Regions from separate parts of the Homo sapiens genome. Here regions 1, 3, 4, 5, 6 and 7 are each linked to region 2. The links come from fine-mapping of genetic effects on gene expression. A gene starts in region 2. Each other region holds a variant in brackets. All regions are shown on one strand. Distances are between the middles of the regions.

Region 1 (4,039 bases), 110 kb after region 2:
GTCATGCATGGCTGTGCCCGTAGACTCTCAGCTGCTCATTCATTCATTCCTGTATTTGCTTAGTAAACAAGAATCCATTACTTCCTGTGTTCCCGATGATGCTGCACTGGGGCGTAGGAATGGAGAGATGAAGCTTGGGTACAGTTTCCAAGGACTCTCAGTCTGCTTGTGGGGGTGGGGCCAGACACACACAAAAGCCGCCACAGGACAATGTGAGAGTCACCATGATGGAGGCACACAGGGCAGAGGCAGGATGGAAGCGGGAGGGAGGCTTGGGAGGGGCTTGGAGCAGAAGTGACATTTGGAGACTCTCAGCCTGTTTTATGTTTCTGTGTCCCTCCCGCTGGAATCATTGGAATCACAAACGTGCATGTGCGATTTCAGCATTCTCTGTTCTGTTTGCGATTTCAGCATCCTCTGTTCTGTTTGCACCCACGGCAGAATTGTTGGGTGCCTGGAATGAAACGCATGGCAGAGGGGAGCCAGGTGCCTTTTTGACTGTTCCCTAAGCCCTTGATCAAGTTGTGGGGTGGTGTTTGTCCCAGGGCACTTTGCCACCTCCATGGGCCTTTTCGCATCAGTAAGGGTCCTGGGGCTCTCTCCTCTTTACTCAGGGCGGTCTTCATGGATGAGTGGCAGGTCCTGGCCTGCAGCCCCCACCAGCTGGGCCACTCCATTAGTGGCTCAGTAACCTGGCCTGCCACAGCGCCACACCTGGGCCCCCGGCTAGTTCTCTGGGATCTTTCTGTCCCAGCTCAGTCATGCCTCCCTTTCCAAGGCTGTACGTCAGAGTTGTCAGCATTGGCACTATTGAGATTTGGGGCTGGGTTATTCTTTGTGGTGGGGCTGCCCTGTGCATTGTAGCCATCCCCAGCCCCTACCCACTAGATGCCAGTAGCACCCTCAGCGTGGCAATCAAAAACATCTCCAGACATTGCTTAGTGTCCCTTGGGAGGCAGAATCACCCTTGCCGCCGACCTTTGCACTCCGCAGAAGCCAGTAGGAGCGTGGAACAGCTTCCTCGGGTTGCTCCAGCAGTCGTCAGGAGAGCCTCGGGTGCCGAGGTGAAGCTGGTCTGCCACCGCCCCGGATCCATGTGGAACCAGAGCTGGATCATGTGGGGGAGTCTCAAATGCCCGGGCCCCGGCCTGTCTTCAGGAGCCCACGGTCTGATGGGGAAGGCGGTCACTGGAATCGTCAGAGAGAAGACACCTGAAGGGTTGTGAAGCTGCTGTGGGTGACAGTGACAGGCGTCTTAGATCTGGCTGCGAGCCTGGGGAATCATTCATGGAAGTGGTGGCATTTCATTCCTTCAGTGTCTCCTGAGAGCCACTTGTGGCCTAAGCACTGGACTAGGCCCTGGAGCTAGAAAACTGATGAAGACGTGGGCTGGGCACCGAGTGTACGGTCTACTGGGGGCATCAGGAGATGAATGAGGAGGTTTCCAAGGGGGGCGGGCAGGGGAACGGCCAGGGGAATGGCCAGGCGTTGCTGGTGTGCTGGGCGGAGGCGCTGGGTCCACAGGCCTAGGTTTGAGTCCAGCTCTCCCACTTGCCAGCTGGTGCCCTCAGGTGAGTCACTTCTCCCAGACCTCCAGCTCCTTGTTTACTTAGGGGGATCTTGAACATACAATCAGAAGCGGTGGCTCTGAAGTGCTTACCTGTTTGCTGGCCGAGTTCATTCATCCTTTCCACAAGTATCATTAAGCACCTACTGCGTGCTGAGTACTGGGGCCTCCGCAGGGAACAAAACAAAGCCCCGCCTCCGTGGAACTCATACTTTGTTGGGAGAGGAGAAAAAATCAGTTGTCTGTGAGAGCATATCAGGCAGTCTTAAGCACCTTTAGGAAACAAGGCAGGGTCAGAGGCTACAAAGAGAAGGAGGGGTCCGATTGGATGGGGGTTCGGGGGCTGCTGGTGAAGGAACATTGAGCAGAAACCTGAATAAGTCACGCCGCTATGGGGCGGGGCTGGTCCCTGGCAGAGGAAG[C/T]GCGGTGCAAAGGTCCTGAGACGAGCACGCTGCCTGCCGTGTGACACAGTAGCTGGGAGGTCAGAGTGGCTGAGTGGAGTGAGCAGCCTGGGGAGCGAGGAGAGAAGAAGAGGCTGGGGCAGTGGCCAAGCCCGGATCACAGGAGCGCTTACCAGGCTTACCCCCTGCGTGGTGGCCGCTGGATGGGTATGAGCCCTGGATCTGGTGGGGCTGGTGACAGGCCTGTCTGCAGAGGACTTGTCTAAGAAAGATGAAGATGCAACACCCAAACTCCTCCCGCCTGGCTAGATGGGAGCATGGAGCAAACCAACCTTTGCTGCCTGCTGTGGGGTGCCACGGGAGCAGATGGCGGCTTCACAGAGAAGCTGGGGGCCAGACTCCACGTTAATCCCATGGATGGCTTAAGGAGCTTCCCCCCACCAACCATGCGTGGTGCCTCTCTGTAAAGAAAAAATGCATTGTTTGTGAAGTGGATCAAGATGCGGCCTCCCAGAACGCTGCCCTTTTGAGGAATGGCTTGTCTTAGAAGGGAAGAGAAAAGCCAAATAGAATGTTCATCTTTTGTAAAGTTAAAAAAAAAAAAAAGCCAGCCTCCAAGGCTGAGAATCGATATTAATTTCATGGGCTTATGGGCAGTGAGATAAAGCAGGTTTCTGGCAGCCCTTTCCAGCCCTATTGGATTTTACAATCTTGAACTGTGAAGACAGCGAATAAAGGTATCAAGGGCTCTGCCCGTCTCCAGCTGTCTCGGGCCAGAGCTCATCCAAATCCCCCACCTTCCATCCCAGCCTGCAGCCCTCTGAAAGGCAGGTTGGATGGCAAGAAATGTCAGCTTGAGCCCTCGAAGACGGCTCACTACAAGGACAGTTGGGATTGTGGCTTTAGGAGGGATTTATGCAGCTCCTCTGGGGCAGGTGAGGACCACGGGGTCATGCTAGAGAGTCAGCTCAACGTGGCTGCCTGGGACACGTCTATGTGCCAGAGGGCAGCCAAGGGGATGACTGACTCTACATCTGGTTTTAGACCAGGGCTGCTCGTCCGGGCACCATTGAGGTAGGGCAAGAATGGGCTCAGCGTGCTGGGGACCATCCTCCTCTGCAACCCTGCCCTCCCTGCATTTACGAGCCCGTGCGTGGCACTGCCCGCACCAGCTAGCCTGGGCATCTTCCCTCTGTGTGATCCATTTCAGGGCCTGTTGCTTGGTCTTTCTAAAACTCCAGCTTCGTGGGGGTGACCCACACAAGTGAACCTTCGCCCCCTCCTTGTACTCTGCTATAGCCACTTTGAATTTCTCACTGGATGACTGTGCCGGGTTCCGCCACCTCCAGGCTCACACAGGCTGCTCCAACTGCCAGAAATCCTCACCCTTCTAGCTTTGCTTGGTGGCTTCTTACCCTTCCTCAGTTCTCAGTGTCCACGTCATGCCAGAAAAACCTTCTCGGCCCTTCTCCCCTATCCCCTCTCTGGCCCCGGCCCCAAGGCCACGCTGTGCCTAGCATGTTGTAGGTCCCAGTTGAAGTTGAATGAATAAATGAGTGAAAAGCCAAGGGAGAATGGCCACCCAACCAGTGCCTGGGATGGAGGCGCAGCTGTGGCCAGCAGCAGAAGCCCCATGCTCCCCCAATCCAGTGTCACCTCTTGTGCCTCCCTTCTTCCTCCGTATCAGGGTGGGCGGCTTCCCGGACTGCTCCCAGTCCTGTCCCAGCTCCTCCATCTTGAGTTCAGTGTGGACCTGCCTCCTCTTCACCCTGCAGGTCGCCAGCTCTCCAGATCCTGCTGACCAACACCAAAGTCCCTCGCAATACCAGGGCCCTTGTGGCTGGCGTCAGAAACAGGCTGCTCAAGGTGACTCTTGTTCCCTTCTTGGGCAGGTTTCAGGAAGGCCAGGACACAATTACATCTGGATTTTCGAGGTCTCCCTCTGGCTGATGGGTTATAGGGGGTGTGGTGGGTGGTGGGGGCCCTTAGGGAGGTGGTTTTGGCAGAAAAGAAGGTACCGTCCGTGCCCGTAGCCTGGCCAGGAAAATGACAGTGGTCGGGCTCGTTAGAC
Region 2 (4,068 bases):
AGTGTTTAAAAAGCTCTTTGGGGGATTCGGATGTGGGACCAGGGCTTACTGCCACCTAGCTAAGGTATTTAACCAGCTTTATCTAAGAGTTGCCAGGGATGTGAGGCAAAGCATCACCTCAGGGGATTCCTACAGCAAAGAAGTTTAAGAAACACTGTATTGAGGCTTGTATAAAACCTTCCCAAACTGAGGGCATTTCTACAACTCAGAAAAGTCTGCTGTTACATTTCAACTAAACTAAGTCACATAATTGCAGCATTTTACATCCAAAATTTGCTTATAAGACAGCTACCGCCAATTGCAACTTCCATCAAATGACATTCTCTCCCTGTGTTTAATACACAAACTCTTGGTCTATTTCTCTCAATGTTCTAGTGAGAAAGATGTTTATCATCAACCCCACTTTTTTGGGGAGAAAACTAGGAATCACACCTATAAGAGCCCTCTGACTCCCAACTCCTTTGCCCCTTTCATTACACAGTCCAAATCAAGAAATCATTAGTCTAATCCCTTGCAGGGCTTGTTAAAACCGATAGATGGGCTCCACCCCAAGAATGTCTGATTCAGTAGTCTCTGACAGGGCTTGAAATTTCAGCCATTTTGAATAAGTTACCAGGTGTTGCTGCTGGTGGGACCAGAGTTTGAGAACCACTGGTTTATGCTGCCTTCTTCCCATCCGCTGGTCCTTATTTTGCACAAAATGGAGCGGACTAGTCAACGTCAGCTACAGGATAACTGACTTTTCTTCAGCAGCGTCACTGGGACTGATTTTCCCTTAAGACTGCACTTTCCAGGGACGTGACAAACAAGCAAGCAAGTAGAAAGAAGATCTGGGCCAATCTTTGGTCATCTCTACCCAGGGACAATGAGCTACTCAGGGAACAGACCCTTGAGGATCCCAAGCAGACAAACCCCACAGCTGAGAGACAGATCTTGAAACATCCTCCGCTCCTTAGGCGTGGTCACCTCTGGCCTCAATGGAAGTTACAGATAGGTACCCAGGCGCCAGCTGAGGCACTGAACTCCGTGGCGCAGGTATCCTAACCTCAGGCCCCTGGCATCTCTCCCCAGGATTCCAAGCACTGAACGCACATCAGCCTGCTGGGCTCTCTCGATTTCTTTCCCTCACTGGGCCGTGTGTTCAGACGCACCTGGGAGCCCCTTCCCCACTTCCTGGAAACTCAGCGACTCCAGCCACAACCTCCAAAACGCCAAACGCTCCGCCCCAAGGAATCCTACCTCACCTTCTCATAACCTGCCCATTCATTCTCCTTCATAATCCTCCAAATCCTCATTTTCCACCCCCAAATGTCCGTTTTCAATTGATATCTCTTTGTTCTCCTCGCAATCACCAACTCCCATCTCCAACCAGCACTCAGGACTCACTTGGAGACACCCCTTCCTCACGCACACACGTATCTACTCCGCAAGCCCAAATGTGCTTCCCGGATTCCTAACCGCCAGGGAGCCTCCCTACCACCACCCCCGCCCCTAATTCTCCACCCAAAGCCCTTCCCCCACCCCGGGCCTTTCCCCTAACCAATCCCCCAAATGCCTCTCCACTATCGTGACTGCCCCTCATCACACCCCCTCCTCTCGGTCCCTTCTTATACTCTGCTGCTGCCCAGCTCCCTCGGCCGCCCTCAACCCCTAGTCCATGGGCACCGCCCTCCCTACCATGAAAAGTCGGAGGACGCAGGAGTCTCCAAACCCGGACTGAGAGAGGCAGGAAACACCCAGCTCACGCCAGCCGGGGGCGGAGGCGGGGCCGGAGCGATAACTTCCGCTGTCCGCACCCCACTTCCGCCCCGCAGAGGGCAACGTCTTAAGCCGTCCGTTGTGCGCCTAGGGGCCAGTTTTCTTTCCAGCCTCCCCGGCCGGAGTGGGTTCCAGCTTTTCTCGGCTGGGGAGGGCATTTATCCCACCTCCGCTATTTCAGCTGCCAGAGGGGAGGCAAGGTGTGGGGAAGTTTTCCTTCCCGGGCGAAGAAGCTCTGCGGAACTGTCATTTTCCGGAACTGGATGCTTGCTTCCTGGCGGGGTTCTGAAAGCGAACACCGCGGGGCAAGATGGCGGTAGTGCGTCGGCTGCTGCCCCGGGTCTGGCAGAACTCGGGTGTTTTGGGCTGAGACAGTGGCAGCTGCGGCCCCGACCCCAAGTGCGGGGACCTCCGGCGAATAAAGGTCGGCCTGCGGGTAGGCCGGTAGGGCCTGCGGTCCGGCCTGCGGGAGAACTGGGTCGTCAGTCCTCCGAGTGGTGGGGCTGGGGACTTTGAGGGAGTTGGCTCTAGGGCACAGTCCCTGCCTGGCCAGGTCGGAGGAACAAGTGCTGGGATCTGGCGTGTGTGCTCCAGGGGCTCTTTCCGCGGCCCTTTCCACCTCTTTTCACTTTGGGGACGGTAGGCCTTTATAAACGGACTAATGCTGGGTGATTTGTTCCTGTGGTTGTTGATGCCGAGGAAAGACTCTGGGCCCCAGGACTCACCTAAACTGGAGTTCGAATACTGTTCGCTCGCTGTGTGACCTTGGGTGAGTTCCCTCACCTCTCTGAGCCTCAGTTTCCTTCTGTGTAAATGGAGTAATTAGCAGGTTTCACAGAGGGTGTGAATACGTTTTAGTACCGTGCCTGACACCTAGTTCTGAATAAAGAAAAACTTGATCGTAATTTAACTCCAGCTTAGCCCCCACAGGCAATCTTGCACTCTCAACTTCTCTTTGCTTGGCCATTCTGTGAACGGGGGAGCCCTGGATCTTGTTTGTTTTACTTAGTGATAAATAACTGTTTTGGATATACATGGATTCAGATTCAAAAGCATCCACCTTAGATAGGCTGTAGCTTTCAATAAATAGTAGCTGTTAATATGAATAGTCTCTTTAAGTCGTGTTTCCTATTCTTTAAATAAAAATTAGATTATTGAGGCTGGCCACGGTGGCTCACGCCTGTAATCCTAGCACTTTGGGAGGCCGAGGCGGGCGGATCACCTGAGGTCAGAAGTTCAAGACCAGCGTGGCCAACATGGTGAAACCGCATCTCTACTAAAAATACAAAAATTAGCCGGGCGTGGTGGCGGGCGCCTTTAATCCCAGCGACTTGGGAGGCTGAAGCAGGAGAATCACTTGAACCTGGGAGGCGGAGGTTGCAGTGAGCAGAGTTCGCGCCGCTGCACTCCAGCCTGGGCAACAAAGTGAGACTCCGTCTCAAAAAAACAAAGATTATCGAGAACTGATAGAGCTGTTGAAAAGACAAGTTGGTTAAATAATCTGTGCAGTGTCTGATACACCGTCTGCCCAGAACAAGTGGTGGTGGTCATTAAACCTGGTGGCCCAGCTTTTCCTACTGCACAGGGACAATCCTCTTGGCTTAGTCAGCAGTTGGTATTTATGATGCTTCAGCTTTGGAAATATAGAGGTAAGACAAGAGTCTGAATCCTGCCTCTTAGTTATTACAGCCTTGACTCTGCCACATACTAATGGTCTAGACTGGAGTAGATGAGATCATGAATGATCTTCTCATAGGACTCCTCTCCTTATTAGATGAGATCACTTATAAAGGACTTGACACATAATGGGCACTCATTTACTTTTTTAAATGATCTTGGTTATCACCAACCTCTTATTTTCTAATCTTTCTACCTATATGATTCTTGTTTCCCTAACTAGATTGCAAGCTTCTTAAGGACAATACAATAAAGCTCACTTACATGCTACATGCTTTTAGATATCCTATATTAATATTTTCCCATTTAATCCTAATCACAATGTTGTGATGACTAAATTGAGGTACAAGAAGGATAAATGTTGCATTTAATCCTTTCAGCAACCCTAGGACATAGACACTATTATTACCCTCGATTTACACATAAGGAAACTGAGGCCTAGAGAGGATAAGTAACTTGGCCAAATGTCGGATAGAAGGAGTACTAAAAAGAACCAAGGCCCGCTTTCTCTGATGCAAGACTTTTTCTGCTGCGCACAGCCTTTTCTTTGGTTCTCCATGGCATTTAGCAAAATAAGTACTTAATAAACACTTGATTGTGTGTTTTATTAATTGACGAACTATAGTATACACT
Region 3 (4,068 bases), 88 kb after region 2:
ACAGTCAAAGCGGGAGTGATAATACTACCCACTTGGTTGGCCACGTGCAGCGTGTACCCCAAGGGCTGGGGAGAAATGGCACCAGTTTGGGAATCAGATTCCAGCTCTACTGATGCCTGGCTGTGGGGGCTGGGCAAGTCAGCCTTTCTGAGGCTCAGTTTGGCTCCCTATAAGCTGTGGACATTAACTTCCACCTCACGGGTGTCTGTGAGGGTGAAATGGGTGATATGAGGAAAGCAGTGGCATTGCTGCCCGGCCTCATCCACAGGCCCTGCGAGCGGCTACCAGGCCAGGCGGGGCTCCCAGGTGAACCAGACACTGTCCCCGCCCTCACAGTGCCAAGGCTGGGTGGGAGGTGGATGGGTGAACAGGTTAACACCCCTTGTGATGCCTGTGGTTAGAGGATGTGGAAATCCAGGAGCAGTGCCTAACCCAGCTGGAGATTAGGTGGCCAGGGAAGGCCCTTGAGGAGGTGACGTGACAGCTGCGACCCAACGCGTACAGCAGACAGAAATGACCGCTGCTACCGCGGCTCCTCAGGAGGTTGAAAGCCTTCCTCCACCACACAGAATGTTCTGGCAGCTGAGGCTTCCTCCTGCAGCCACAGCCTGTGGCAGCCCCACCTACTACCCTCCGTCTGTTCCCAGGGGCCTGAGCAGGCTCCAGCCTGGGCTTCAGAACGGAAGTGGGAAGGGCTGACCCTGCGGGGAGCGGTTTCTGGGGACCTGGGTCCATGTGGAGGTGGAAAGTGCGGCACCCTGGGCATTCTGGGGTGGTGACCCTGTCTCCGTGCTTGAAGTTCTCTGCGTGGGTCAGAGGCCCCCTCCTTCTTAGGGAACAGAACAGTGACACTGTGACGCATGAGTCCCACGGGCTGAGGGCTCACTGCAGCTAGGCTTCCCAGGTTCCCTCTGCATCGGGCATGAGCGAGGCACTTCACACCGGCTTTCTCAGCCTCGGTGCTATTGCCATTCAAGGCCGGGTCATTCTTCGTTGACGGGGGCTGTCCCCTGCATTGCAGGATATTTACATGCCAGCAACACCCCCAACACCCAGATGTGGCAACCAAAAATGTCTCCAGATATTGCTCAGCGGGCCCTGAGGGGCAGAATGGCCCTGGGTTGAGAACCGTTGCATTTTAAATTCCCTCATTTAGTACAATCCTCCCCACTCGCCTGTGAAGGAAGATTATATGTCTCCAGTTGTTTGTTTTGGAGACAGAGGTTTTTTTTTTTTTTTTTTTTTAAAGACAGGATCCCACTCTGTTGCCCAGGCTACAGTGCAGTGGTGTAATCACATCTCACTGCAGCCTCAACCTGTAAGACTCAAGCGATTCTCCCACCTCAGCCTTGTAAGTTGCTGGGACTATGGGTGCATGCCACCATACTTGGCTAATTTTTAATTTTTTTTTTTTTTTGTAGAGACAGGGTCTCCCTAAGTTGCCCAGGCTGGTCTTGAACTCCTGGCTTGAAGTGATGCTCCCACCTTGGCCGCCCAAAGTGCTGGGATTACAGGCTTAATTGAACCATGGTGCTCGGCCTGAGACAGGGTCTCAATCTCTTGCCCAGGCAGGAGTGCAGTGGCATGATCACAGCTCACTGCAGCCTTGACCTCCTGGGCTCAAGAGATCCTCCTACCTCAGTTTCCTGAGTAGCTAAGGCTACAGGCATTCACCACTATGCCTGGCTAATTTTCAAATATTTTGTAGAGTCAGGGTCTTATTATGTTACCTAGGCTCCTGGCCTCAAGTGATCTTCCTGCCTCAGTCTCCCAAGTAGCTGAGATTGCAGGTGTGAGCCACCATACCTGGCCTGTC[C/T]GCATTTTACAGATGAAGAAATGGAGCTCACAGAGGGAGAGTAACTAGCCCCAGGTGACACAAAGAGTAACTGGTGGCTGGATGCTGAGTCCCGTGATGGCCACCGGGGCTGAAGATTCCCAGCTTGGGTGAGATGGTGTTACTCACTTTCTGAAGCTCTTCGGCAAATGTATGGCCCTTTTCTGTGACTAATTCCAGAGCAAACCTATGAAGAAAAAGGAAAAAGAATTTGCCTGTAATGTAATGTCCCTAGGCCCTGTCTTGCCATAAACAATAGATTCTCAGGTGGCAGGCCATTTAGTTAATTTAGCTATAATAGCCATGTTATTTTTCTTGCTAACAATAAGAACATTATAGCCTTCCATTTGGGGGCGGTGGTATTTGTTTCTTGAAATGCCTTTTCGGATGCTCATTATTTCCAGTCAAGAATTCCTTTTGAACAGCTACTCTGGCCAGGCCCAGGAGAGTCAGTGGTGAACAGAAGCTGACCCAGGCTCTCTCCAGCAAGTTGGTGACAGGGTGAGCAGTGACAGTCTCAAGTGCTGGATCCTGAGCTCTGACCCGCAGCCCTGTGGTGATAGGTGAGTGGGAACCAGACAGACCCAGGTGCAAATTCTGCACCGCTGCTGAGTGTCTCTGGGACTTCAGGCAAAGCTTACACCTTCATGTTCAGGAGCGTGATATTCAGGAGTGTGATAGGTAATCAGATTAGACATACTCCTGAATGTGAAGGTGCAAACTGAGATCAGTGCTCTGAAGGAAAGAGCAATAGAAGCCTAATCTGACCTTGGCTAGAGAGGCAGGGAGGGCTTCCTGGAGGAGGTGATGCTGGAGGGGAGACTTTGAAGGCTGGGGAGGACTTCCCTCATAAGGCAGAGAAAGCAAACTGCCCCCCGACACAGGTCAGGACCCTGGCTCTGCCTCCCTCAGAACCCTGCACTTCCCTCCTGCACCAGTCAGTGCCCCAGCAGGAGACAGTGGCGCGCTGCAGGGATTCCTGGAGGAGGGCTTTGGGAAGGGACAATTCACAGAGGTATGGGCAGAGTTTCAGGGAAATGCAGGAGCCTGAAGGGCAAGGGTCGGGGAAGGTACAACTCACCCTGGAGGGAGCTGAATTCTGGAGTCACTCAGCAGGGAGGGAGTTAGGTAGGGAGCCCAGCTGCCACCAGAGCCATGCACCACTGGGGAACAGGGTCACACACACTCATGAGCTCTCTGCACTCACTCTCCTATCACCTACTGGTGCCTCCCACTGGCTGGACCCACCTGAATGCCAGAAGACCAACGAATCGAGGTGGCACAGCCACCAGGTGATAAGGTCAGCCTCCCATGCATAAAGAGAAGGTGAAGAGAAGGGATTTGAAAGGGCCAATGGAGAATATCCAGCCCATCTTCCTGGCACATCTTACAGTTAGAACTAAACACACCAGTATGTGATTCCCGTCTGGTGTGTCTTCCCCTCTGGACCAAAGGGAGGGCTGTGCAGGCTGGGACACAGTCTGTCTCCATCATAGCGGATGCCCCATGCCTGCCTCACAGGAGGTGTGCAGAAGTACCTGCTTGCCGAGGGATGCCCCGTGACCAGGCCAGTGGCAGGCCCCACCCTGGGCACTTGCCCCAAGCCTGCTCCCACCCTCGTAGCTGCCCAGTGAGTGCTGCCTGCTCCCTGCACTCTGCAGCTCAGGAAGGTGGGGCTGAGGTTCTGCTCCCTGCACTCTGCAGCTCAGGAAGGCGGGGCTGAGGTTCTCTGTTGAGCAGCGCCTCGCACTGCAGATGCTTGGTCAATATCTGACCAAGGAAGAATCCACAACTGAGGTTTCTCCAACCTCCCGCTCCTCCTCAACTGAGAGACGATGGCTCGTGTTTTAGAGCTCATTAGAATAGCTGATGCGAGAACTGGCCTTTTCTCCCTTTGCCCACTTGGTCTTGTGTCTGCCCTCTTCTGGACCCCCTCCCACACACACCAAGGGGTTTGTTTGCCTTCTCTACCCGGCTGGCTGACTATCTGTACCTCCCATTATCTGTCCCGAAAATCTCACCTAGTCAGGCCCGCCATGGAGAAATGGTAGCCAGGAACAGGTAAGTGTTAAGAATAGTAATAATGAGGAGACTCGCTTGAACCCGGGAGGCAGAGGTTGCAGTGAGCCGAGATCACACCATTGCACTCCAGTCTGGGCAACAAGCGCGAAACTCCGTCTCGGAAAAAAAAAAAAAAGAAGAGTGATAATAGCTAACATTATTTTTACTTGTGC
Region 4 (4,068 bases), 43 kb after region 2:
TGCTTATTGGAAATTCACTTGACATCCCAGTTACTCTGGCCCTACTTTTTAAAGCATATCCCTCAGGGATGGCAAAAGAGATGTCTGTCTTAGGCTTTAGGCAAAGTCCCTTTTCCTCTTTACTTTCCACTGGAGAAGGGGAGAGGGTTGTTCATTGTTATCCCAGTTGTCGTAATCTGGTGGCTTGGTTATTAGAATATGAGAGCCCAGGGGCCTTTGCTGGATTTGGACACAAGGGGGCGTCAGTAAGCTGATCTCAGACTCATGCTCTCCTGGGCATTGTTTCCTTTTTTATGGTTAGTATTGAGGGCTATGCTTCTCTATTAGGCTTCCAGATATTAAAGTCCTGTAGGAAGGCTCTTCTTCCCAGAGGGTGAGTTTGGGCTGGAACTCTAGTATTCAGAACCGGAAGGATCCTCAAACATACTCTTACCCAGTCCTTTCCCCTGTCTCTGTCAAAGGCAGAACTGAGGCCAGAGAACTTCAGTCAAGGTCACTTGGATATCAGTGATAGAGCTGGGCCTGGAAGCCAGGCATCCCTTTTCTAGCTCAGTATTCCCTGTGTGTGCATGTTGAGATGCAGTGAAGAAGAGGAACGCTGACTCACATTCACCTCCCAAGAGGCATGGATATAATCCTCGCATATCCACGCCAGTTCCCAGAAGGCAGGAAATGTATCACAAGAGGCAGTCCCCTCTAAACGTTTAAACAAAGAGGCTGGTGTGGAGCTGATCAAGCAAGACTGAGATTTGAATCCAGTAAACGCTCCTTGAGCTAGGCCATGTGCCACTTGCTTTCACATGTACCATCCCATTTCATCCACATAACCACAAACGCATCTACTAATGCGTGTGAAGGCTGGGGAGGCATAATTTTAAAGCAGGTTGGAGGAACTCCTGCAGGCAGACAGGAACTTGATGGAATTCTCCATCCGTTCTCATCTCAGTGCCAAGATAATTATCTTAAATTTAGGCAGAATGGTTTAAATGCTGTTACAGCTGCCTGTTGACTTCCTGTTTCTCCCTTTTGTCATCTAACTTAATGATTCTCAAACTTTATGTACATAAAAAGTCCTTCTCAGGTTTGCCTCCACAAAACTGTGCTCCTGTTCCCACATGTGACTTAGGGGTCTTGAGAGGTAATTTTCCCTTGCCCACTAACTTTGAAGCCTAACCCCTGAATCGGGGCACCATAGGATAGTCCTTTGGGGATCACTGGGTGAACATGGCAGGAAGGCAGCAAGGGTTCCCCAAAACAGGTCTCGCCACACTGGCATACTGCTCGTTTGCTTTGTGATGAGGGGACCAGACGGCAGCCGAGTGGATGCTGTGGAGACAGCCTGTCTAACCTGCGAAGCATGTGACAGTGTTACAGTTGTAGCTGAAAGGGAGAAATGTGGCATGGCCTTCATAGGACAGCAGGGTTGATTGGTCACTTGTTCCATCACAGTGTCTGAAGACATCAGTTTCACCTGGTGATTGGGCCTCTCAAGTCGGGCCAACAGACTCTTCCCTGGGCCCTGTGCTGTTCAGCACTGTTTTTATAGTCACTGCTCTGAAATAAAAACCTCAGCACCCCAAGTACTAGGAATGCATTAGATGATGGAACCAGAAGCCAGGAAGGCCTCAACAGATTAGAATCAAGAGACAAACTAAACAGATGATTTAGTAGGAGAACTCCAAAGTTGTGGTTCTGGGGCTGTGCATGTTGAGGTCTGGATGGAGTAGATGTGCTGAATGGCTGTGTCCTAACAGAGCTGACCACCAGCCAGAAGTCCAGGCCCAGCACCACCCCCACATCTCGGTCTCTGCTCCCTGCGTTGATCCCTGCCATCCACCTGCTCTGCTGCCAATAGAAAGATCTGACAGAAAGTCAGCCCTGTTACTCTTTGCCTAAAACCTTCTGCAGCTCCCATTACCTTCAGGATGTCCCCTAAATTCCTCAGCATGACTTGCAGGCACTTCATGATTGGGAAGGCAGCGGGAGATGAGGGGTGATGGGTAATTCTTTTCATTTTACAGTGTTCTGTAGGTTTG[AT/A]TTTTTTTTTTTTTCTTTTTTCTTTTTTTTACCATGAGCTAAAGATACTCTTAGCATTGAGAGAGAGAGAAATGTATCTTGTCCCGGTTTCTTTCATCCTTTGTCTGATGGCCAGGAGCTTGTCATGACTCATTTTGTCTAACTTCCCCATCTCACTGCTCTGTCCCCTTGAGGTCAGTCTCCCCTTGCCAAGGAGTGATACTGTCACATCCCCAAATGAATCTTTGCTTTTAATCAGCACTCATTCAAAAGCAGGTGAGAACGGCTCCTGTCATGCATCCACGTTTCATAATTTGCACATTTGGTAATGATGCTGGGAGAGCTTCGCACAGAGGAGAGGGAACCCCGAATTGTGTGCATAAGGCTTTGGGCTTCCTAATGGGCTGTAATTCTGCTCTTGGCAGGACGGCTACGAGCAGCTTAGGCAGCTCTCCCAGCACGCCATGAAGGGGGTCATCCGTGTGAAGTTTGTCAATGACCTCGGGGTGGACGAAGCAGGGATTGATCAAGACGGTGTTTTTAAGGAGTTCTTGGAAGAGATCATCAAGAGAGTTTTTGACCCAGCACTCAATCTGTTCAAGGTATTTAAGGGGAGCAACAGCAGGGCTGACAGCAGCCAGATTCAAGAAGTGAAGAGCTGGGCTTGCTCCTTGCAAGGCACTTGACCTCTGCCTCTCCCCGTCTTTTTGCCTTGCAGACAACCAGTGGGGATGAGAGGCTGTACCCCTCACCCACATCCTACATCCATGAGAATTACCTGCAGCTCTTCGAGTTTGTGGGGAAGATGCTGGGGAAGGCTGTGTATGAGGTAGGAACGTTAAGAAACAGAGAAATGTAAAATAAAATGTTAACGGTACCATGGGCTTCTTCACATACACATATGTGATCAGGCTTGGCCATGTAAACTGTCACTAGGATACAAGCGAGGACAGGGGCAGGAACCAAGGTTTGTTGTACACCAGTGCTAGGTACTTTGCCTGTGGCATCTCATCTCATCCCATCGACAGCCCTGTGACGGGGCTGCCACTGTCCTGGCTATTTAAGGATGGGAGACCTGAAGCTTTGAGGAGTCACCTGTCCAGAGTTTCGTTGCTAGTTAAGTGGTAGAGGTGGAATTTGAACCCAGGCCGGCCCAAGTCCTAAGGCCAGCCCTCTTCTTTCCTGAGGCATGAGGAGTGGTGTGCAGAGCCAGATGGCCACACGGAGGCTGGGTCCCCGTTGTAGGAGGGCAGCATTTTGTGGAGTTTGATAGTTTTAAAATCTTGTGTTGTTTGAGTGAGTGCTTCCCAGCCATGGCAACAGGACAGGACCAGCTGTTCCTAGTCAGCCGTGTGACCATGTGCCTTCAAGTTTCTTTAGTTTTTAAGCCGTGTTCTCGCATCAGTAAAGTGGAGATAAGAAAAGCCACATTCCTGGGTTGCCGTTAATGGTAAGTGAGGAGGGCCTTCTACGGTGCCCAGCCAGCTGCTCACACCAGGTGGATCGGAGCAGTCATCCTCACCTTACTAAGAGGAAGTGAGTCTGGGTTTCCACTCTGTGGCCTGATGGGGTCAGGGTGATGTGGCCCACACAGCTCCTGTCCATTGAAACCCCGTCCATTGAAAGCCAAGGTGGGACCACCTTCAGTGGGAAGTCACCGCCTGTTCCTTGGGAGAGTCCTGTTTCCCAGGAGGAAGGAAAGCTGCAGCACAAGCCCAGCCAGTCTGTGTGGCCTTCGCAGTGGGCTCCAGAGCTGCAGGGACCCTGCCTGGGTCTCAGGCTCTGCTGAGCTTCTGGCCCAAGCACGGAGGAAGCGAGCCACCTGGGCAGCACTCCTCGCATACCCCAGGAACCTGGAGAAGCCAGATGCTTTCCAAACAGAAAGAGCCAGCAGCTGGGCCAAGCTGAGAGGGAGGTCTCAGGGCCAAACTCCTTTCACTCTCGAATAATCCATTGTTCTCTCTGTCTGGAAACAGTCTATGTGCACCGGCCTCAGTCCCTGGCCATGATGGAATCAGGTGGCCCATCTGAGCCCCTGCCCAAACACCATCC
Region 5 (4,068 bases), 21 kb before region 2:
CAATATGGTGACTCTCCTCTTACTACCCAAGGGCAGAGGCAGCCCAGGTATATTTTTAAAAAATCAAACCATGACAGAATGGGGGTCTAATTACAGGAAGAATTCACAGCCCTGAAAAAAAAAAAACAGTTCACAGGAGAAAAGGGGCATGATGTCTTGCCAATGTGGAGAGAGAGGCAGATGATTCTGGTTCACCCCCTGCCCCCGGGATCTTTGAAAGCAAAAAGAACCTCAGTGTTTAGCACTTCTTGGCTACCTTAAGAACAATATCTATTCTTTTAGGATAGATTTTGAATGCTTAGGAATAAAATATGTTGTCAAATTCATCCTGTGAGTGCTGGGGAGGAGGAGTAGATACAGACTGAGTGAGAGTGCCCAAGCTGATGGCCCTTGACGTGGCGTGATGGCACAGGGGAAATCACCACACTATAATTCTGTGTATGGCTTCAATTTTCAATAATAAGTTAAAAAAAAAAAAGACTCTGGTTTCTACTTTGTGATGTGATGATTTCTTCTCATTTGCTTTTTGTTCGAGGTCAGCTACAGAATCATGCAGAACTGTGGCCCCAAAAGCTGCAGGGACAATAGTAACCTGGGTAAGTGACCTACAGGCTCAGGCTCTTAAGACTCCTGTGCAAGGGTGACAAGAGGCATGACCGTCGGCCCACAGCAGACCTGCTGCATGTCACTGGATAGCCAGAATTCCCTTAGACACGTTAAAGAAATGACAGAGTGTATAATGTGAATTAAAAGTTTAAAAAGACAGAAAACCCAATTGCAGAGCCCCAAAAGGGCAGGCAAATTCAATTAAGGGGGGGCCAGATCTCTAGCAGCACTATGCAGAGCAATCCAGCTTTGTGGAACGGCATGGTGGGAGAAGTCAAAGGATAGGTCAAGCCTACTGGTTTGGAGAGGATGATATAAAAACACATCCCCAGAGTCCAGCCCAGTCAGGGAGTCAAGCATGCTTGGAAGGAAGCCAGCAAGGTAGGGAGCTAAAGGAATGCCAGATGAACCCTACATTTGGCTCCTTGCAGGGCCTAAAAGATAAATATTTTAAGGATGAGCAATCACAAGGCAAGCAAAGCATTTTAAAAGCATTTCCCTCTGTATTGGGCTCAAGTGAAAGGAAGTTCTATAGGTGTGTGTTTCAGAACAGCCACTCCAAACTGTCCTCTCGAGGCTCTTACCTTGGTCTGTTTCTTCTCAGTGGCATAGACGATGGAGGTACAACAGACTTCAGCAATCTTCCGGCCCTGACCATAAAAGGACCAGCAGCAGATTTCATCCCCAATAACATCCTTTATGAACAGGACCCTTCCGTTAAAGCGCAGAGACAGCTTATCAAACAGTTCAATGTTTTTCAACATATTGTCGTCAGAATTGCTGCAAAAGAGCATTTGATACGGTGACCACAAGCTGGTAAAAACTGCCATCATTTGCTGGGCCCTTCTACACGCAGGGCCCTACTGAGCCCACTTTCTCCACTACCTCATTTCAACCTCACAATAATCCCATGACAAAGGCACTCCAATCTCCATCACTCAAGAAGGAAAGTGAGGATCAGAGAAATTAGGTAATTGCTCAAGGCTGAACCTAATAAATGGCAGACACGCCCCCCAAAAGACAGCCCTGGCCCCTAAGCCTGAGTGCTCCTAACCATTGTGCTTGAGTGACAGCCTCTGGGCACAGGCACCAGGTGGAGGAGAGCACCTCACCGAGCCCCAAGAGGAGCAGAATGGCACTGCCCAAGGGAGACTCTATATCCTAGGTCTTTTTAAAGATCTTGAGTAACCTGATTAAATCCTCCCTGCATCCCTCAAGTTCCTGAGTTAGAGCCACATGTTTTCAAGGGCCAAATGGCATTCTAGAAACCTGCATATATTGCTGGTGGGAATGTAAAATGGTGCAGCCACTTTAGAAAACAGTTTGGCAGGTCCTCGAATGATTAAACATAGAATTACCACATGACCCAGCAATTCTGTTCCCAGAGAAATGAAAACGTAAGTCCACATAGAGACTTTGCATGAATGTTCATAACAGCATTACACACAATAGCCAAAAAGTGC[A/G]AACAACCCAAATGTCCATCAACTGATGAATGGGTAAAGAAAATGTGGTCTACACTGTGGAATATTATTCTGCCATAAAAAGGAATGAAGTATTGATTCATGCTACAACATGGATAAACCTTGAAAACCTCTTAGGTAATCTCATTATGCTGAATGAAGGAATCTGGTCACAAAAGGCCATATATTATGCAATTCCATTCACATAAAAATGTCCAGAACAGGCAAATTCATCAAGACAGAAAACAGATTAGTGGTTACCTAGGGCTGTGGGGTTGGGGAAGCAATGGTTGAGGGAAAATGGGGAGTGACTGCTAACGAATAGAGGGTTTCTTTTCAGGCAGTGAAAAAGTTCTAAAATTAGATAGTCGTTATGGCCTCACAACTTGTGAATATATAAAAACCACATATTGTGAATATAATAATAACTGTACACTCTAGAAAGATGACTTTTATGATATGTGTGAATTATAGCTCAGAGTTATACCCCTGTATCCATCTGTCTACTTATCTATCCAGGCAGAGAGGTACAGAGGGGTCATCCTCATCTGAAGGTACGAAGAAGAGCTGGGCCTGGCTGGTGTGAGTGGAGGTTTTCCTAGTAAATGGAGCTGTCTTTCCCGGCTGACGCCTTACCTGGTATATGAGTATTTGTTGTTACTTCTGTTGTAGAGCAACTTCACGGCTGGCTGTGGGTTGTTTTAAAAGAAGAAGAAGAGAGTTACTTGGCAGGCAGATGCAATGAACTACTAGCTTCCCATAGGGCTGGGGCCCTGCCCTGCATCAGAAGAGGCAGACAAGCATAGCTTGCTGGCTGGAGAGGGGGACCACATGACCCAATAGCAGGGGCACAAAAGATGACCTGTAGCTTCCCACTGTGAACCCATTATCAGGCCTCACTCAGGCAATTATACATGTTTTTATTTCAAAAGTTATTCAGAAGAACCTCCATCATTTCTGGTAGCAAAAGAAATTCCACAAGGGTGCCTCCAACATACCTTATTTGAAGTCGCTATAAGTTTTTGTTCTTCCTTGGATGAGGTGATCACAGGGACCTTGCAGAAAGGCTCATAAGTATCTTTGTTCTGCTGGAACAAAACATGCTTTCAGCCTAGGAGGCCTGCCTAGCACTGCATTTTTAAAGTTGACCGGCTGGACAGGCTCTGGCGAGGGGAGATGGGGCAGTCATGGCTGGGAAGAGAGAAGGATTCTCACCACCAGTGAACTAGATGGGGGAAGACAGGGAGTTGAATTTCCCAGTAAGTCTGCTCTTTGGCTATGACCATGATAGGCCAGGATGCTGAGTAAGTACTAACAATGATGACACATTTTCCACAGCCCAGGAAGCCACTCAAAAATAAACCCTTGACGTGGCAGCAGAAACGTGTTTTAATCAAAAGCTCCTAAAACCCCACTACCATGACTGCAGAGGAATTAAAAAAAAAAGCATAAACCCATAAGGGGAAAAAGAATGGGAGAAGTGAGGTCAGCAGACCAGTAAAAAAAGTCAAAAATTTGAGGGTAGAAAGGTCACAGGTGAGCGTTAACCAAGGAGAGGGGGAAAGCTGAAACCAGTGGGCGGAAGCACTGGAAAGATCCCCAAATCCATCTCCGTCCCCATGCAGGCAGAAGAAAGGGCCATCTTCCTGCAGTGGTTTGCACGGTAGAGGACAGGGCTGAGCTGCGATTCTGAAAACGGGGGGACAAGTGAACATCACACTAAGTGATGAGCAACCCCAGCTCCTTCCCCTTCCAGATCCCCAAAGGCAGCCGGCCAGGCCTAGACCCGTCAGGCAGGAGGAGAGTAGAGGATTCCTCTTCAGGAACACCACCTGCTTCCCCCAAAATGGCTTACAGATTCTGACAGTTGGGGGTCCCGCTGAAAAAGTCTGCCTTATCACCCACAATGCAGCCCAGTGGACAACAAGGACCTTCCATGCACAAACAGCTTTCAGAGTCTCTCATTCCTTCAACAGACAGCCAAGCATCATCAGATTACATG
Region 6 (4,056 bases), 27 kb before region 2:
AATCAGATGGCTTATTTGAAACAAACAAACAAAAAAAACCCTTGATTACGACACACCAAAGCTGTTCCAATTTGTAAAAAACTGTAGTTATTACATTGCAATGAAATCTCTTTACCAAATCTTGGGCCAGTGTTTTACCTGGATAGTGCTTACATTATAAATATTGGTTTTTGCCCTTAGTGCTAACATAAGAAAAATCAGTTCCTTGTATACTCAATAACAGAGCTTGGACCAGCCAATGCTGTCTATTCACTCATGGCTATAATGCAGCCGACAGAATTGTTCACCATGGAATGTTTTATAAACCTGTTCATATTCCAGAGAGACAAAGACTCAAAACTACAAGTGCAAAGTTGGGTAGAGAGAGCTGCCAGAAACACTAGCTCATTAGGCATAGAGGCCACAGCAAATCAAATTGTTCCACAAACTCATTCTTCACACAAACATTTAAAACACTATGCAGCCAGGTGTGGTGACTCACACCTGTAATCCCAGCACTTTGGGAGGCCAAGGTGGTCGGATCACAGGGTCAGGAGTTCAAGACCAGCCTGGCCAACATGGTGAAACCCCATCTCTACTAAAAATACAAAATTAGCTGGGCATGGGCTGATGGGTACCTGCAATCCCAGCTACTCGGGAGGCTGAGGCAGCAGAATCGCTTGAACCCAGGAGGCACAAGTTGTGGTAAGTGGAGATGGTGCCACTACACTCCAGCCTGGCCAATAGAGCAAGACTCCGCCTCAAAAAAAAATTTATACAATGGCTTTTCCATTTTCCTGGCCAACATTCACTTCGACTTTCTAAAAAAGCTCAACCCAAAAGAAAGACAGGGTTGGTGTTTAACACTTAAACAGTATAAAATATTTACGAAACATTTTGTAAGCCCTCTTTCCTTAGCACTTAATAAAATCCAAATGGCCTAATATAAAAGTTTCTCACACGACAGTTTAAAAAGCATCTGCCCAATACACGATTTTGACATTCAGTCATGATTGTTTTAAAGTTTTATTGTAGACTTTGCTGTTGGATACAAAATGAAGGCATACAACTGTCACAGGCAGGGCAGTAAGTACAAAGTCTAAGCTGTAAAAACCGTTTGAAAATATAAACTCGTTTTTGGAATACATGTGTCAAAGGCTGCCCATGTTAATACCTTTGGTATAAAACGGTAACGATTCCCTTGACAAACCCATCCATCACCTGACGCACATTCACATCTCCTGGTAACTACTCTACCTAGTCTAGTCTCAACCACCCCTGTCAGTCACGACTCACTCCTGTTCCTTTGCAGGTGCAGAGGAGCCTGGGAGGTAGGTCACTGAGAACACCCGTCCTACATAGGCGCTGCGCCCAGCCGGGCTCCAGCAGGGGCCGCCACCTGTGCCCCACAAGCACACGTCCCCACCCACAGTCACACATATCCCTTAAACAAACATGAACACAGACACAAACCAGACCCAAAGTTATCTATCTACCCGCACATCCTCAACCTGTTCACTGCTGGCCACTCTACACTGTGTAAAAATCAGAGGCAAAGACAAGGGGGTCTGTGTTTATAGCAGGGAAGCTCCCTGGGGCTGGTGGTGTGAGGGTGTCCCTGCCTGGATGCCAGGCTGGGAGGACAAAGGGTATGGGCCACACTGAATTTCTAAGCAAAATGACTTAGAAAGTTAGCCCAGCTTCATGGGGAAGGAGGCTGAAGAGGAGCGGGATCCCAGGGAGGGGTAGTTTATGAGCTATGCCTGTCACAGGGTCAGATGGCCTTCCTGGAGTGGAGTCGGGTCAATCAGGAGAACAACTGGACGGGGCTGGAGTTGGGGAAAGAACCAGAAACAGAGCTGGACACTTACTGCCATGGAAAGTTCTGCTCCTACGCAGACATATGGGGTCCCAGTGAGCACCAGGCCAAAGACCAGCCCAAGGTGGCAAAAGGCTTGATCCCTAAACAAAGCCTTGCACCCAAAGTTGCACTGGTCTCAACGATTTAGACGCTCATTCAGCCATATTTCCACTGCCACAAGCTGCAATTATCAACAAGCTCTAGGCCCAAAGCCACATGGCAGAAAGCACGTCTAGCAAAGCAGTGGGGATTGTGCCCGGGCCAAACACACAGGAACCAGGAGTGGACCTGCTGGGGCTGGAGGATTATGAAATAGGAAGCAGGGAGCTCAGATACCTCTGGTGGCCTCCAACTGCAGGACAACTCTCAGAATTGTCAAACTGAACCCTTAAGGGAGTGTCACCCAAAAAGCCCACATAGGAAGTCGACACCCACAAAAATAAATATTGCAAACAAAAGTTCTCACATACACTTCACACTCATT[C/T]ATACTTTTCCTCTGAGAACCGAGAAAGCCTGGCTCCAAAGAGTCTCAGATTCTCATGAAAAGTAGAGATCTTAGACACAGCTTGTTCAACGACAGGGGTCATACGCCTGGGTCAAGACAATCAATTTGCCTTGTCAAGCAATACCAAAATAATCATCTGGCTTGTTACAAAAGTATCTCCAGGCTCCAAGGGAAGCAGAAGGGGCCCGGCAGCCTGCACAGGATCTGGGTGTAGCACGGCAGGGAGTGGGGGCGGTGAGAGGAGGGCGGCTCGGTCTCTTGCCTGCTCACTGGTGGAGGTGGGCCCGGTCATCAGGGCGCTTGATGTGGATCCTCCGCACGCGCTCGATCCGCTCCCGCTCCTCGTCCTCGTCCAGGTGGTGGGAGCGCCCCGCCGCCCCGCCTGTGGCCTCCAGGAGCGCATTGTCAGGTCCCCGGCCATCCTGGGCCTCATACAGCAAAATGTTCAGGGTCTCCTCATAAATCCGGGCTTCGGGAAACTCCACCTGTGTTCCCACAGTATACAGGGCAGGTAAGTTATGGCCCACCCCCTCTGCCAACACCTGGACTTTAAGCAGGGCCGCCAGGCTAAATCAGGCCCCTGGGATTCTGCTGAAGGCCACCAGTATTATTTTTAAATAAACTGATATTTTCAATGGCAACACTTACATGTGGTGCTAAATGCACAGAAAATCAAGGGGATGCAGAGAAACAGGTCTCCCTGCCCCTAGTTTCCCTTCTTAAAGGTACAGTTTCTCATCATTTTACCCTCTCAAAGATTCTGTGCATGTAAATATGTGTAATACACATATTTATTCACACACTTCAAAAAACACACAAGGTGGCCCACCACACAGAGTTGTACATGTCTTCCTCTTGTGCCTAACTTAACCTAGAGATCATTCTGTATCAAGGAATTATAAATACGACAATGCAATTAACCATACTTGGATGGCCATTTAGGTCAGTGCTAATATGCTTCTCCTAACAGAGCTGCAACCTTGCACAGAAGTCCTTCCACACCTTAAAGCAGTCTCTAAAGCAGTTTTTTGTACAGGGTCCAGCTGGGGACTCCCACGAAATGGGCATGAGCCCTTCTGCTGTTTGGCAAATCATTGTGTTTGCTCATTGCCCTTCAGGGTTAAGGTGTGATGAACAGGAAGAGGGCCACATAAGCAGGTCCCACACATTTGATCAGACTAGACTCCACTTTCAGGGTGGAATTCGGAGGTTCTGGGAAAAATGGAGCAGGCACACTCTACCCCGTCTTCCTCACTGACACTACAAAGCCAGAATGGGATGCACACAGCAGCTAACTGTGGACTCAGAAGTAAATCATGGCAGGCAGATGGGGGAAACAACAGAATTTGGAGTAATGCCCAACAGTGAGTTTACTGTTTGCTGCTGCCAGCACTGATGCAGCCTGAAACCCTGAAATGGCACCAGGACAGAAGACCTCCAGAAGGTCTCTAGTGGCCAGGGAGGCCAACAGAGTCTAACAGGCAGAGAGGCTGGGAGGAAATCCTGGTTTTCTTTCCTTTTTTTTTAAAAGATATGGGATCTGGCTAATTAAGCTTTAAAATTTTAAGACTTCTCATTTTTAGAGCTTAATAAGGAGCAAGGGGATTTAGAGACCACATGGTCTGATCCCAACTGTTTCTTGATTCACAGACCAGGTTCAGGAGTGGCGTGTTCTTGTGTTTGTGAAGCTGGTTAGGGGCAGAGCCAGGAC
Region 7 (4,068 bases), 130 kb after region 2:
GATAGTCTCCAGCTGGAGGTGGGGCCTCTTTTGCCGATGCCCTAGTTGGCATGGAAGCCCTTTATAACGGTGTTCTAATTAGGGCTCCCATAACAAAGTACCATAAATGTGGTGGCTTAAAACAACAGAGATTTACTCTGTCATGGTTCAGGAGGCCAGAAGTCTAGAATGAAGGTGTCGACAGGACCAGGGACCCTCTGAGACACTGGGTCCTCTGAGAACCCTCCCTTGCCTCTTCCTAGCTTCTGGTGGTGGCTGGCAGTCCTGGGCTTGCGGTTGCATCACTCCAGCCTTGGCTGTTGCTGACACATGGCCTTCTCCCTGTGTGTCTGGCTTCACATGGCATTCCCTCTTATAAGGACAGCAGCCCACCCTCATGACCTCATCTTAACTTGATTACATCTGCAAAGACCTCATTTTCAAATAAAGTCACATTCATGGGGATCCGGGGTTAGGACTTCAAAATCTCTTTGTGGGGGACACGATTCCACTCCCAATAACCCCTAAGGGGCTGGGCATGGTGGCTCATGTGGGTAATCCTAGCACTTTGGGAGGCTGAGGTGGGAGGATTGCTTGAGCTCATGAGTTTGAGACCAGCCTAGGCAATAGGGTGAAACCCCATCTATACAAAAAATACAAAAATTAGCCAGGCACTGTGGTAAGCGCTTATAGTTCCAGCTACTTGGGAGGCCAAGATGGGAGGATGGCAGGATGGCTTGAGCTCAAGAGTTCGAGACCAGCCTGAGCAACATGTCGAAACCCCATCTCTACAATAAAATACAAAAATTAGCTGGGTGTCGTGATGAATGCTTGTAGTCCCAGCTATTCGAGAGGCTGAGGTGGGAGGATGGCTTGAGCCCAGGAGGTAGAGGTTACAGCGAGCCGAGATTGCACCACTGCACTCCAGCCTGAATGACAGAGCCAGACCTTGTCTTAAAAAAACAAAACAAACCCTAAGGGCAGGGGTTTTGCTGGTTGTTTCTGCCTCTGTGGTCTCCAGCCAGAGCCTGGCATATGTCTGTGCCAGAGGGGAGTTGTGGATAGAGTCAGAGTGTCCAGTCTCTCCCCGTGGGTGACCGCAGCCCCTGCTGCCAACAGCAGCAGCCACAGCCCGCTTGGCATCTGGGCAAGGCAGGTCTCCCGGGAAGCCCCCTCCCACGGGCTGTTCTCCGAAAGAAGTGGTGTTGATGTCGGCAGGTGCCTGTCACTTCCCTTCCCCAGCAAAGTCTCAAACTGTCAGAATAAGTGAAATAGTCATTGCCTATCTCTGCGTTTGAGATTTTATTGGCAGTTTCATTGTCACCCAAAACAACCTCCTTTTCTCCGTTGGCGTTTTCATCAGATGGGTCTGTGGGCAGGAGGAGGAGGCAGGGCTGGCTCCTAAAAACAGGCCTGGGCAGGTCATGGTGCTGGCTCCACTGGGCTGGAGTCAGCAGGGGCAAAAGACCCCGTGGTGGGCTCTGCCATGCCTTGGCTCCTGCAGAAAGCTGCTGGGCACTCTCTCCAGGGAGCAAAAAGGAAGTGAGAGACGGAAGGTAAAAACACCCTGAGAGCCCCTGGAGATGGTCACAATGGCCAGATGGGGCAGCCCAGACTGCACAGTGGGTCCTCAGGCCCTTCCCCAGTCCTCCCTGGTGGGAATTAGGGGGGCATTATGGTGGTGGGGTAGGAGCATGGGCTGTGGCATCAGACCCACCTGGCGGCAGGCACCTCAGAGCAAGCACTTCTCCCTGCAGAGCCTCAATGTGCCTGTCTGTCAAATGGGGTGGTAACAGG[A/T]ACCTTCCATCAGCTGAGGGCTTGATCTGGGCCACACACCCAATTATCCTGTTCAGTCCTCCCCAGAACCGAGAGAGGTGGGTGTGCTCAAGCTCTTCATTTTCTTGATATGGAAACTGAGGCAGCCCGACCAAGGTTACCACAGCAGGCAAATTGCAGGGGTTGGGTTTGAATCCAGGCTGTGAGACTCCAAGCCTGGTTGTGAATCCACTTTGGAGGGTTAGTGGAAGGAGTGTAGGTGATATTATTTTTTTTTTTTTTTGAGACAGGGTCTCACTCTGTTGCCCAGGCCGGAGTTCAGTGGTGCGATCACGGCTCACTGCAGCCTCTACCTCCCAGGCTCAATTGATTCTCCTACCTCAGCCTCCCAAGCAGCTGGGACTACAGGTGTACACCACCACACTCAGCTAAGTTTTAATTTTTCCTAGAGGCGGGATCTCTCTGTTGCTCAGGCTGGCCTCGGACTTCTGGGCTCAAGTGGTCCTCCCACCTTGGCCTCCTGAAGTGCCAGGATTACAGGTGTGAGCCATTGTGCCCGCTGGTAATAAAGTGTCAACAGAGTACTAGGCACATGGGACAAAAAGCCATCTGTTATTGTTGTCTGGGCATGGGGTAGAATCTGGGCCCCTTGGCAGTCACTCTCTGTCCTGGGACTTTCTGGACATCACTGGGTAGTTTCACCCACAGGGTGGCCTAAGGAACCTCCAAGGGAATGGGGTGAGCTCAGGAGTTCCACTGAGACTGGGGGTCCCTGTGTGGGGCTCAATCCTGCTTCATGCTGTGATCCTGCTGGTGTACTCTGTCCCTGGCCCCCAGCAGGGCTGGGTGCCACTCTACCACATCCAAGCATCACAGAAGGGAATCTGAGGCCCAGAGAGCTGTCCCTTGCTCAGGGCTCCTGAGCCAGGGAGGTGGATACAGTGGTTAGAACCACAGATTGTGGAGTCAGTGAACTCCATGTTTGAGTTCTGGTGTGGCCACCTGCTGGTTGGTTAACAAGTTGCTGAGTCTCAGAGTCTCAGTTGCATCCTCTGCACATTGGGATAATAAAGGATTCCTCTGGAGACTGGGTGCTGTGGCTCTCACCTGTAACCCAGCTACTCAGCAGGGAGGTTGGCTTGAGCGGGGGAGTTCGAACCTGTAGCCCCGGTGCTACTCAGCAGGGAGGCTTGCTTGAGCCCGGGTGTTTGAGGCTGCAGTGAGCTATGATCACACCACTGCACTCCAGCCTGGGTTACAGAGTGAGACAGTCTCTAAAAAAAATCACATCCCCCTGCTAAGGCCGAGGGGACAAATGATGCTACACAGAAGACATTAGCACACAGAGAAAAGAAGACAGAGTTTTGGCATCTACAGGCTCCTTGAAGATCTCAGACTCCAGCCCATTCTTGGTGCAGAGGAGGAAACTGAGGCCCAGAGATTAGGGAGGGTTTCCACTTAGCCACCCCGCAGAACAGGGGCTTGTTCCTTGGCCCTGTAACTCCCGATCCAGAATGTCAGCCACCTCCCCAGCTGGCGTCGTCCCGGGAGTCCCCTCCGCCCCTCACCTGCCCTTCTCCCCGTGTCTCTGCCTTCGAGAGCCCAAGCTGCGGGCCCGCAGTGAGGAATGCCATTCTCCCTCTCCCCGGCACACTGAAGGTTTTGAAAGTTAAAGTATTACCGTCGGCTTTGTTGTTGCCTAACTACGACAGACAAATTGAGAACCAGTTGTCAAAATGTCAGTGCACAACAAATCAACATGCAGAACGAGTCTCAGCGCTCTGCGGTGTATAATTAAACAAAAAATCCCTTTTAGAAATTTCAGCGAGCGTTGGTTCCACTTTATATTTGTCTGTGTGATTAATAAAGGCAGCTAATTTTCAGACTTTAAAAACAGCTAGAAAATAGCTCCTAATTACATATTAGGTTCCTCGCGGCCCCCGCTGCGCTCCGCCGGCATTGGTGGGCCGAAGAATTTGGCAGAGTCTTAATTGCATTCTGAGCATCATCTAATTTTAGTTAAATGTAATGTAATCAGCAGCAGATGTCTGAAATAAAATATGAATTATGAATATGATGAAATTTCATTCTTGAATAAAAAAGTAATTTGCTATTTAGTTCATTAAAGTCATAGAGGTTTATTAGGAGCAGGTATATATGGCCCGATGAGGGTATATATTAAGTGATACTGGGAGACAGAAACCCCAAAGGGATGGGAAACTTCATCCAGGAGAGTTCAGTTATGATTAATGACTGTGGGGGCTGGAGAGGCTCCTGGGGACCCTGAGTTTACCCAGCCGGAGAATTCCCTCG

Direction of the effects. Alleles are on the strand shown, and positions count from the first base shown. SD is a standard deviation of normalised expression in the study named. Not every link is listed here.
For the expression in subcutaneous fat of the gene that starts at base 1,718 in region 2, AT is the high allele of the variant in region 4 and A is the other (moderate effect, 0.46 SD a copy in TwinsUK).

What was found. PIP is the estimated chance that this variant, and not a neighbour inherited with it, causes the effect.
Region 1: its variant is fine-mapped to the expression of KCTD10 in whole blood (INTERVAL, PIP above 0.99).
Region 3: its variant is fine-mapped to the expression of KCTD10 in lung (TOPMed, PIP above 0.99).
Region 4: its variant is fine-mapped to the expression of KCTD10 in subcutaneous fat (TwinsUK, PIP 0.95).
Region 5: its variant is fine-mapped to the expression of KCTD10 in whole blood (INTERVAL, PIP 0.94).
Region 6: its variant is fine-mapped to the expression of KCTD10 in whole blood (TOPMed, PIP above 0.99). The same link has a PIP of 0.9 or more in blood mononuclear cells.
Region 7: its variant is fine-mapped to the expression of KCTD10 in NK cells (Gilchrist 2021, PIP 0.95).

The regions. Positions count from the first base shown.
Region 1 is chr12:109,587,028-109,591,066 of GRCh38, forward strand. It overlaps MVK (mevalonate kinase), which reads left to right. Exons shown (of 11, transcript NM_000431.4): 8 at 3,744-3,834. Among named protein-coding and RNA genes, the nearest start is that of MVK, 15 kb to the left of the region's middle. The variant C/T (reference allele first, on the strand shown) is at 1,990.
Region 2 is chr12:109,475,583-109,479,650 of GRCh38, forward strand. KCTD10 (potassium channel tetramerization domain containing 10) reads right to left here and starts at 1,718. Exons shown (of 7, transcript NM_031954.5): 1 at 1,678-1,718. The coding sequence starts at 1,680. UBE3B (ubiquitin protein ligase E3B) reads left to right here and starts at 2,052. Exons shown (of 28, transcript NM_130466.4): 1 at 2,052-2,527. RefSeq lists enhancers at 631-1,366, 1,875-1,964.
Region 3 is chr12:109,563,156-109,567,223 of GRCh38, forward strand. MMAB (metabolism of cobalamin associated B) reads right to left here. Exons shown (of 9, transcript NM_052845.4): 4 at 1,964-2,021. Among named protein-coding and RNA genes, the nearest start is that of MMAB, 8.3 kb to the right of the region's middle. RefSeq lists an enhancer at 178-678. The variant C/T (reference allele first, on the strand shown) is at 1,817.
Region 4 is chr12:109,518,707-109,522,774 of GRCh38, forward strand. It overlaps UBE3B (ubiquitin protein ligase E3B), which reads left to right. Exons shown (of 28, transcript NM_130466.4): 20 at 2,442-2,618; 21 at 2,735-2,845. Among named protein-coding and RNA genes, the nearest start is that of UBE3B, 43 kb to the left of the region's middle. The variant AT/A (reference allele first, on the strand shown) is at 2,037.
Region 5 is chr12:109,454,928-109,458,995 of GRCh38, forward strand. It overlaps KCTD10 (potassium channel tetramerization domain containing 10), which reads right to left. Exons shown (of 7, transcript NM_031954.5): 4 at 3,065-3,151; 5 at 2,703-2,755; 6 at 1,191-1,386. Among named protein-coding and RNA genes, the nearest start is that of KCTD10, 20 kb to the right of the region's middle. RefSeq lists an enhancer at 3,599-4,068. The variant A/G (reference allele first, on the strand shown) is at 2,070.
Region 6 is chr12:109,448,984-109,453,039 of GRCh38, forward strand. It overlaps KCTD10 (potassium channel tetramerization domain containing 10), which reads right to left. Exons shown (of 7, transcript NM_031954.5): 7 at 1-2,830. The coding sequence ends at 2,612. Among named protein-coding and RNA genes, the nearest start is that of KCTD10, 26 kb to the right of the region's middle. The variant C/T (reference allele first, on the strand shown) is at 2,325.
Region 7 is chr12:109,610,420-109,614,487 of GRCh38, forward strand. No RefSeq gene overlaps it. Among named protein-coding and RNA genes, the nearest start is that of MVK, 39 kb to the left of the region's middle. RefSeq lists an enhancer at 806-1,306. The variant A/T (reference allele first, on the strand shown) is at 1,777.